Regions from separate parts of the Homo sapiens genome. Here region 2 is linked to region 1. The links come from fine-mapping of genetic effects on gene expression. A gene starts in region 1. The other region holds a variant in brackets. All regions are shown on one strand. Distances are from middle to middle.

Region 1 (5,395 bases):
CCACATTTTCTTTATCCAGCCTATCAGCTAAATAATAAGAACATATGGACACACAGAGGGGAACAACACACACTAGGGCCTTTTGGAGGGTAGAAAGTGGGAGGAGGATCAGTATCAGAGGATCAGGAAAAATAACTAAGGAGTACCAAGCTTAATACTTGGGTGATGAAATAATCTGTACAACAAACCCCCATGACAAGTTTACCTATGTAACAAACCTGCACATGTCCCCTGAACTTAAAATAAATGTTAAAAAGTAAAACAAAACAAAACAAAACAAAAAAACCAACATAGTTTTGGAATTCCTGACCAGGGCAATCAGGCAAAAGAAAGAAATAAAGGGCATCCAAATAGGAAATCAAACTATCTCTTTTTGCAGACGCCATGATCCTATATCTACAAAACCCCATAGCCTCAGCCCAATAGCTTCTTAAGCTGATAAACAATCTCGACAAAGTCTCAAGATACAAAATCAATAAGCAAAAATCACTAGCATTCCTATACACCAACAGTAAAGCTGAGAGCCAAATCAGGAGCGTACTCCCATTCACAATTGCTACAAAAAGAATAAAACACCTAGGAATATAGCTAACTAGGGAAGGTGAAAGACCTCTACAAGGAGAACTACAAAACACTGCTCAGAGCAATCAGAGATGACACAAACAAATGGAAAAACACTTCATGCTATTGAGTAGGAAGAATCAATATTGTTAAAAGAAATGTATAGATTCAGTGCTGTTCCTATTAAACTACCATTGGGATTTTTCAAAGAACTAGAAAATATTATTTTAAAATTCATATGGAATCAAAAAAGAGCCTGAATAGCCAAGGCAGTTCTAAGCAAAAATAACAAGCTGGAGACATCATGCTACTCAACTTCAAGCTGTAGTCCAAGGCTACAGTAAACAAAATACCATGGTACTGGTACAGAAGGACACATAGACCAATGGAACAGAATGGAGACCCCAAAAATAAGGCTGCATGCTACAACTATCTGATCTTCAACAAACCTGACAAAAACAAGCAATGAGGAAAGGATTCCCTATTAGATAAACAGTGCTGGGATAACTGGCTAGCCATATGCAGAAGATTGAAACTGAACTCCTTCCTTATACTGTATGCAAAAATTAACTCAAGAGGGATTACTTAACCGTAAAACCCAAAACTATAAAAACCCTGGAAGACAAGCTAAGCAATACTATTCAGGACATAGGCATGTGCAAAGACTTTATGATGAAGATGCCAACAGCAATTGCAATAGAAGTAAAAATTGACAAATGGGATCTTATTAAATTACAGAGCTTCTGCACAGTACAAAGAAACTATCAACAGAGTAAACAGACAACCTACAGAATGGGAGAAAATTTTTGCAAACTATGCATCTGACAAAGGTCTAATATTCAGCATCTTTAAGGAACTTAAACAAATTTACAAGAAAAAAATAAGGAATCTCATCAGAACATGAGCAAAGGACATGAACAGACACTTTTCAAGAGAAGATATACATGTGGCCCACAATCATATGATTAAAAAGCCCAATATTATTCATCATTGGAGAAATACAAATCAAAACCACAATGATACCATCTCACATCAGTCAGAATGGTTATTATTAAAGAGTCCAAAAAGAAAAAAGAAAAAGATGCTGTTGATGTTGTGGAAGAAAAGGAATGCTTACACACTACTGGTGGGAGTGTAAATTAGTACATTGTGGAAGACAGTGCAGCAATTCCTCAAAGACCTAAAGACAGAAATATCATTTGATCCAGCAATCCCATTATTGGGTATATACCCAAAGGAATATAAATCATTCTGTTATGAAGACACATGCATGTGTATGTTTATTGCAGCACTATTCACAATAACAAAGGCATGGAATCAACCTAAATGTCCACCAACAGTAGATTGGATGAAGAAAATGTGGTACATATATAGTATGGAATGGTACATAGCCATAAAAAAATGAGATCATGTCTTTTGCTGGGACATGGATGGAGCTGGAGGCCATTATCCTTAGTAAACTAATGCAAGAACAGAAAACCAAATACTGCATGTTCTCATTTATAAGTGGGAGCTAAATGATGAGAACACATGGACACATAAAGGGGAACTACACACACCTGGGCCCATCAGAGAGAGGAGGGTAGGAGGAGGGAGAAGTTCAGGAAAAATAACTAAAGGGTAGTAGGCTTAATGCCTGGGTGATGAAATAGTCTGTAAAACAAACCCCCATGACATAAGTTTACCTATGTAACACACCTGCACATGCATCCCAGAACTTAAAATCAAAGTTAAAAAAGAAAAAACAAACAAACAAAAACACAACAGAGCCTAACCTCACATTATCCTGTGTGCCTACTGCCTTGTACCTTTCTATTTGGTTCATGTCATTCTTGCTGCCTAAAATACCCTTTTCTACCTCACTGTGTGGGTCATCCCTACTTATATTTTCAGACCCAACTGAAGTGTCCACTTTTGCAAACCTTCCCTGATCTGCCACATAGTTTATTACTTCCTTTTTTTGTAATACACAAACACACTCACACACTCACACTGACACACACATACCCATTTATTCTACTCTATCTCATTTACTTATGTCTTTCTTTTTTTCATTCCAGAATATGAGGTCATTGTTGATGGAAAAGAACACTTCATTATTTATCTAGCATTGATTTGCTTATTATGATCTGCCTATACTCAGAAAATTATAGGTTTAATGCAAGGTACAGCTAGGTTTCAGGAGCCTAATGAATATCCACTGGCCTATGTTTTAATCCATAATCCAATTCACTTCCTCTTCAAGACAGAATACAATTGAAAAATTATTATAATTCTTACTGCACCTGATTTAATTGTGAAGAAACTCATAAATTCTGTCCTGTTTAGATTAATGATTCTCTTCACAGCACTTCAAATTGTGACACATATTACTATGTTTACTTAGAACTGTAATTTATCTTTTCCTACTCAAATTCCATAAGTATTTTTAAAACAAACTTCTTTTCTCTAAATGTGGGTGAATCTCTGTTCATCACAACAAGGAATCTCATTAATATGCTTTGGAGAGCTAAGAGAAGGAGTCAGGATAGTCTAGTTGTGATTCATTCGTTTCTCTACTTCTCTCCAAGCTTACAGTCTTTGGGCATCAGTTTTGTTTTGTTTTGTTTTTGTTTTACTAAGCTTAAAAATAGCAGTTGAAATACCTGATCTAAAAATTCCTTTTTAACTTTAAATTTTTATTCTTGGGAAATTCAAGCATTTCCAAATATGAATAAATGGACTAATTTGTAATTATTACTGACCTGCATGCATTCATATTAATGTTTAAAGGCATATATTACTTTTTGTATAAGCATAAATAAAAAAATGCAATTAATCATGTATTTATTTATCTGACAGACCTGCAGCAGTTACTGGATGCTGTTAAAGTTTCCACTACAGATGCAAGAAAAGTGTCCCACACTTTCTGTCTGTCTGATTGTGACAGCTAAGATTAAATCAGGTAGGACAGTAATTCCAGAAACATGGCTGGGAGGGAGATAATGTTCATGACACAGAAATAATCTTGTAAACAGCAAATATTTTGTTTTATTCCAATAAAGTAATCTAAAATTTGAATTAAAAATATATTTATAAAGTACTTTTCATCTTCTTAGGCTGTAAATACCAACAAAACATTTTGATTATAGTAACATAAATATAAATCACAGGGGCTATATGTTAAATTAATAGTAAATGTGAATTATGTCATTATAATTTTGACTAAATCAGAGATATAGTACAATTAAATGTCAGATTTGATAAAGTACTTATTCAGTTGGAGTTAAGCTTAATAGATTGTGTATCAAGATTGTTTCATCATTAGTTCATGCTTATGAAGCCTGAAAAAGAACCACTACCAGAATCAGAACAGGGAATAATCAGTTGCCTTTTTATCATGATTGCTAAATTTAAAAGACTTCTGATTGTCTTGGATTGCAGTTTCTTAAAGTCAGGTATTTTGTTTCACTTATTTTACAGTTATTAGCTTAGGACAAATAAAACAAAAACATATTTTAAAATATGATCTACCCCTATTGAACAATATGTTCCATGTAAATTTTATGTATATAAACATATGGCTCTAGTTAATATTAAAATCAAAGAGGAGAGATTTAGGCAGGTGTTTGATTATCACAAAACCAATGGTTAAAAAAAAAAGCCTGGCACACTATCTTATGCATTGCAACACTTAAGAGATGAAATAATAAATAATAAATTTGAAAAGACAAAACATAAATTTAAGGATTCTTTGTACTGACTACATTTAAAAAAACTTACCACCTTATACAAATGTGATCTACATAGAATGTGAGACTCTGAATTTGCAGACTGGGTTATAGCTGAAACTACAGACACACTTCAGTACCTTGCGGATGATATTCACTCATTTTCTTTTCCAAAGTTCAACAACTTTGTTCAAATCTGTTTTTTTTTTTAATGGGTTGCACTCATCAATGTTGCCTTTCAATCTGAGCTTTCACTTCTTAGTGTATACCATGGCGTAGATGCATTGCACTAAGGCAAAATAAATAAATAAATAAAAATAAAAGACTGGGCGCGGTGACTCACGCCTGTAATCCCAGCACTTTGGGAGACCAAGGAGGGCAGATCACGAGGTCAGGAGATTGAGACCATCCTGGCTAACACGGTGAAACCCCGTCTCTACTAAGAACACAAAAAGTTAACCAGGCGTGGTGGCCGGTGCCTGTAGTCCCAGCTACTTGGGAGGCTGAGGCAGGAAAATGGCGTGAACCCAGGAGGCGGAGCTTGCAGTGAGCTGAGATCGCACCACTGCACTCCAGCCTGGGCAACAGAGCAAGGCTCCGTCTCAAAAAAAAAAAAAAAAAAAAAAAGCAAATCAGCCCCAGTGGGAGAGAGTTTACAATCAAGAAAGTGTCCAAGACTTTATACATTTCAAAAAACAGAAAAATATTTTCAGGGAAAGCAATATTAGCTTTCAAAGAGTAGTTGCCACTTGAACTAAACATTTGCTCTATAATTATAAAATCACCTTGCATATTTTTACAAGAAGAATGTTTTCACATTTACATAAACTAGTGTAGCCATGGCCACTCTACACATATTGTTTTTCTTCTTTACATTTAAAGTTTCACTGTAAGTTTCAACTTACACTGTAGTGTTCTGTGCAACATTTTCCAGAAGCTTCTTTCCTAACTATTCAAAGAGGTACTCTTCTAATTCTGCAATTCTAAGAAGAGTCATTCTGATGAAGGGCAGGCAAGCCCTGAAGTGGGGCTAAGCCAGCCAGGGTTCTTGGCTTTGCCCAGGAAAGAATTCAAGGGCAAGCCAGAGGGAGAAGAAAACAGCTTTATTGAGGAGGCAGTGTTAC
Region 2 (5,395 bases), 31 kb before region 1:
TAGATAAGGTTAACCTAGAGTTCTTTAACTCCAGATTATTTGCTCCTATAACCCAGATCAGGGTGACTAGATATAGGACAGGGTGATGATGATGGAAATACAGACACAGGGAGAAAAAAATGTTGTGTGTCAAAAACACTTTTAATTTTAAAGCAATGCAAGGAACTCACTGGAAGACATTCAATAATATTTTGGTGGAAAGTTAACATACTTATCCATGTCGTATCAGGCCTCAGAGTCAGTCATGCCTTTATTTTAATACAATTCCATAGCATTTTCAATACATACCTATTCCTTAATTGTTTCTACTAAGCTGGGTTCCATTTGCTTTCTTCACATGGCACTGTATTGCAGACTTTATTCTAGGGTATTGTGTTCAAATCTACCAGGTGTATTGTTAGCTGTTTTCTCACATTGTATTTGTCATATTATGTGCTATAATTTACCTAATCTGAGCTCTTTAACTGAACTTTAGACTATTTTAAATTTTTCTTTTTTATAATTGATAAAGCCAAATTCTAGCCTTTAAGAAACAAAGTGCCCTTGAAAAATGTATGCATAACTCCATGCATATGTTTGTGCAATCTTATAAGAATTTCTTCAAGATTTTGAGGTATAAACTTTCTAGGTTCAAGTGTCATGCATATTTTAAATTGACGTAGAAATTGCCAAATTACTGTTTAAAAATGGATAAGCTTTATTGCTCACTAACAAGAAATGGAGTGCCCATAATCCTTGGCAACAGTAAATTTAATCAATTCTTTACATTTTATTTTTTCTCTGTCTGTAATAAGAAAAATATCATTTGTAAGAACATGTAATTGAAATAATGAATCTGCTTTGTATTAGAACTACTTAATTGACCTTGTTTATTAAAAGGTGTAGGGGCATGAAGTGAAAACTAAAAGTATCCTGAGCCTAGTCTCAGAATTAATCCCTGCTAATGGTTTTGACACTCCTTGTGTAATGATTAGAGTTCTGCTTTTTTATTTACAATATCCTGGATATCCCTTAGTATTATTAGCACACTATTTTAAAAAGTTAAGGAGTATTTAACTGAATATATTTATAATATTGCATTCAACCAGCTTCATACTGGTAAATATTAAAGTTGTTTGCTATTTTTATAAAACCACAATAAACATTCTTGTATATAACATCTTTTTTGAGTATACCTACAAGAATGAGAGATTTTAAATGAGTGAAAGAAAAAACTGACTCAGTGATTATAAACATAGTTTTGCACAAAAAGGTGCAACAATTAGACCACATAAATCTGATGTTACAGAATAATTAAAAGGAAAGAGATGGAAAACTTTGGTGCACGGTACATTCAAACCAACATTTAGTTTGGTAAATGGTAATGTGCTACAAAATGTATAATCATAATTTTTCATGAAACCAAAATTTTAATGTAACAAAAATTATTCCTCCGTTTTAAGAACCAATGTTAATCAAACTCATGAAGGAAAAAATGCGTTTATGCAGAAATTCATATTGGAAGATATGACAGCCACTCAGACCAAAAACCATTTGCCTATAGAGCATGCAAGAGATTGAGAGACTGAGGGGTTTGCCCTGGATCACATGCATGCTTGGTGGTAAAGCAGATTAATTTTTTTGGCAAAAAAATTATGTGGTACAGCCTAATTTTGTTGTATGTATAGATTGCTGAGCAGTCAAATCAAGGCTTTAAGGTATCCATCACCTGAATAACACACATTGTACCCATTAAGTAATTTTTTATCATCCATCCTCTTTCACTTTAGTCTCCATTCCCCTTGCTAGTCTCCATTTTTTACTATTATCATTCCACTCTCTAAATTTGAATTCAGGCTGATCAATCCCAGAATCTTCTCTCTTTGGTACCGCACTATACTATGCTATACTATATCGAAGAGGAAAGATTGCCAAAATCAAGGTAGACAGTATTCTTAGAAAGCGTAATGTTCTGTCTGAAAATGTTACCAATACAAGAATACAAGCAATGGGGATAAGGCAGATGCCCAGGTGTGAGAAGCTAAAGGATCTTTTATAGCCAGTCTTGTAGTAATGTGCTTCGAAGTGGAATTCCTGAGAACTGCACCTGCATATGGAGGTAAAGGTACCTGTGAAAATTTAAATGTTACATTTATTGAATATAAGCAAGGCCTTGAAAGTGCAATTCTGATCTGTAGAAACATTAGCATTATAAAATTTCAATAAATATAAGAATAAAATATTGTAAGTAAAATTTCACAAGCAACATTGGTCATATTTCAGACACTAAATAGATATTTATTGAAATGTTGTTTTATTATTTTACAAGGATGTACACATTTCATAACACACTATGCTAGAAGTAGAATTTTAAAACATTTTATTAATTCACTGGAAAATACAAAATTTCCAAGATTTTCACATTAAATAATAGTAAATAGAAACATGAAATTTATTTCTCTCGTAACTGCTGCTAGACCATAAATGAATTAGAATCTTTAAATGTTGCCTTTGTTGAGAAGACTAAACCAGACTAAACAAAAATCACTGAATAATAAATTTATTTATCTTAATATGTGTATAGTCCTAAGCAATTATAGAATTAAAAAAAAAAGTATCCAACCACCAAGTTCTAAATTAATGTGCTTCCAGCTCTTCACTATATGTTAGACATGTATTTTATTTAATAGAGATTATAGCAGAACTGACTTCAAGTTTGGCTGAATTTCATTAATGGAGGAGAGAAAAGATACCATAACCCATTATTGTGTGTCTATTACAATGGAAGAATGTACTTTACACCAATGAACAAATAGAAACATGACTTTGTGTTTATATATGTTTTGTAGTCAATTAATGAAATAATTATCTCATTTTAATGAAATGTAATTTTGACTATCCAGTCCCACAAATGAGTTCATAGTATGATGTCAGACATTCTTGTTTTGCAAAGAAATTTATCATACAATTCCTTTAAAGAAATGTGCTATCTAATGCATTTTAAACACTTTTTTCAGGCACATTAAAAAGTAAGCACAGTTGAATTATGAGGCATTTGAAAGCAAGTTATGATATTAATATAATGGTCTTTACGATATATATATATCGAACTGATTCTACAAACTGCCAGTCAAGAATAAGATTTTCATAAGCATGTAAAGGGAAATTTATAATTTCCAGAGG[A/G]AAAAAAGTGAATACTTTCTCCTCCTGCAGAATAATCAGAAAGAAAGGAAGGTTTCTCCATGTGGTAATTCCAAATATTGTTCTGGATCCAGAAGCTGTACAATTTAATTACAAGAAATACTATATAATTTATCTTAGGTCAACCAAAGCTTGGTGAACTACTAAGAAGCACATATTGCATTTTACAGCGGTTAAGAACACAGATGTCAGTCTATGTGGACTGGGATCAGATATTTAATCAGCTGTGAGACTTCAGCAAATTCCTGGGAATTCAGTTCCTTCATAATTGTGCTTTAGTTTCCTCATCTGTAAAACATAGATTAATACTAATATTAATAAAAATTCCTTAGCAGCATTAGAAGATTGTAGGTTAACTTATACAAAGCACCTAGAATAGTGTCTAGAACATAGTAGGTGGTATGTAAAGATCAGCTGTTGATATTAGTTTTGTGGAACTATATAAGGAAAGATTTTTCTGTTTAACAAGCTTATCATCTAGCATGCATTAGCCTAGGCTAGAGAGTACCCAGGAGAAGTGTCACTGCAGTGTGATAAGTATTAAAATTGAGCAGCTTCAGAGTGTCTCATATCTTGTTTTACAGGTAAGATGCTAGACATCATCAAAGATAAAATTTAATAGTTATAAACCTCCTGGTAAATACACTTGCCTGTGATAAGTTATCTTTGTCAAAGTTATTTGCCCTTTAGCATTTTCATAGACTCGGATATAATTGAATTTTCCCTTTGCAAGTCTTTGGAGAGTTCCACATAGGAAAGCATTAGTAGAATGTATAGTGTCATCAGCTACCAATTGCTATACAGCTAATGTAAGAGGTGAGCACATCAGAGATTGATAGTCTATTGCCTACAAATATTAAGACATTATGTAATTACTGATGCTATTCATCTATAGTTTTTCTCCAGTCTACAAAATACCAATGCCTTAATATTTAATGTTGGAGACAATACTTATGAAAACCAAACAATCTATATGATATTTTCTAATTTTTATCATTAAGGCCACAACTGTGTCAAACACAGACTAATCATAAGGCTTGCCAAGCCTTTTAACTTTATAGGGAAGTTGGTTGGATATTTAGGAGTGGGCTGGCCCCTACCTTAATATAATTGTACAAGTATCTCTGCAATTGTTTTTAAGCTTTTTCCCTCAGGAAAAAAATGGAAAATATATTATTATTATTATTAATTAAAATACATAACTGACAATGTATAGTGTTATCCAGGATTCCTAGGAGACCAGTTTAGCTATAGGGTAAATTTTTAAATCTCAAATTAAAAGTTGATAAATTAATAAAACACATGTTCTATGTGCTATTATGATCAAGTATTCTTTTTCTTTTTTTTTTTTTTTTTTTAGACAGAGTCTTGCTCTGTTGCCCAGGCTGGAATGCAGTGGCGCAATCTCAGCTCACTGCAACCTCTGCCTCCAGGGTTCCAGCGATCCTTCCACCTCAGCCTCCCAAGTAGCTAGGATTGATTACAGGCTCACCAATACGCCCGGCTAATTTTTGTATTTTTAGTAGAGATGGGGTTTGACTATGTTGGCCAGGCTGGTCTTGAACTACTGACCTTAAGTGATCCATCCACCTTGGCCTCTCAAAGTGCTGGGATTATAGGTGTGAGCCACCGTGCCCAGCCAAGTATTCTCTTTCTAAACCCTAAACAATAAAATCATTAAAAAAAAACCTCAATTATATATGTTTTCCTTTAAGCTATAGCATTCTTTCTCTGATAATACAACTGATTCAAGCTCTGGTCATCACCCTCTTACAACAATCAAGACTGCCCCTAGAGACTTAAGATTTTTCAGTCCTTGAAGGAGGTCTGTGTGTACAATATAGAGCAAATATCTACATCCATGTACTGCATGAAATTGCAATTAAAGCCAGAATTATGCCCTAGGAATCTAGTCAGCAAGGATCTAAACCATATCTTTTGGCAAATATAAAACAGGTAACTTAAAACTCTTAAGGAATCATGATACACAAGCTACGAAACGACTCAAGAAGCACAAAGATGTGGGACTCTACACTGAAGAGGGACCCTACACTGAAGAGGCCACAAGAAATTTGACTGAAATTGTAAGAGATGCCTAATGAACAGCAGGTTCTCAGATTGCTGAGGAGCAAATAGTCACGGAACTACAAAAGGAAGAGGTAAACAGTAAATGAGGGAAAACTCTAGAAGAAAACTATATTCTCTGTTTACTTTT

Which allele goes with the higher level. Positions count from the first base shown, and alleles are read on the strand shown. Sizes are in standard deviations (SD) of each study's normalised expression.
For the expression in sigmoid colon of the gene that starts at base 2,263 in region 1, A is the low allele of the variant in region 2 and G is the other (moderate effect, 0.43 SD a copy in GTEx).

What was found. PIP is the estimated chance that this variant, and not a neighbour inherited with it, causes the effect. A credible set is the group of variants that fine-mapping cannot tell apart.
Region 2: its variant is the best candidate, but not a certain one, in a credible set for the expression of LRFN5-DT in sigmoid colon (GTEx, PIP 0.67).

Annotation. Positions count from the first base shown.
Region 1 is chr14:41,591,076-41,596,470 of GRCh38, forward strand. It overlaps LRFN5-DT (LRFN5 divergent transcript), which reads right to left and starts at 2,263. Exons shown (of 2, transcript XR_001750740.3): 1 at 1-2,263. It overlaps LOC124900349 (small nucleolar RNA SNORA31), which reads left to right and starts at 3,387; the gene lies at 3,387-3,516.
Region 2 is chr14:41,559,922-41,565,316 of GRCh38, forward strand. No RefSeq gene overlaps it. Among named protein-coding and RNA genes, the nearest start is that of LRFN5-DT, 31 kb to the right of the region's middle. The variant A/G (reference allele first, on the strand shown) is at 3,163.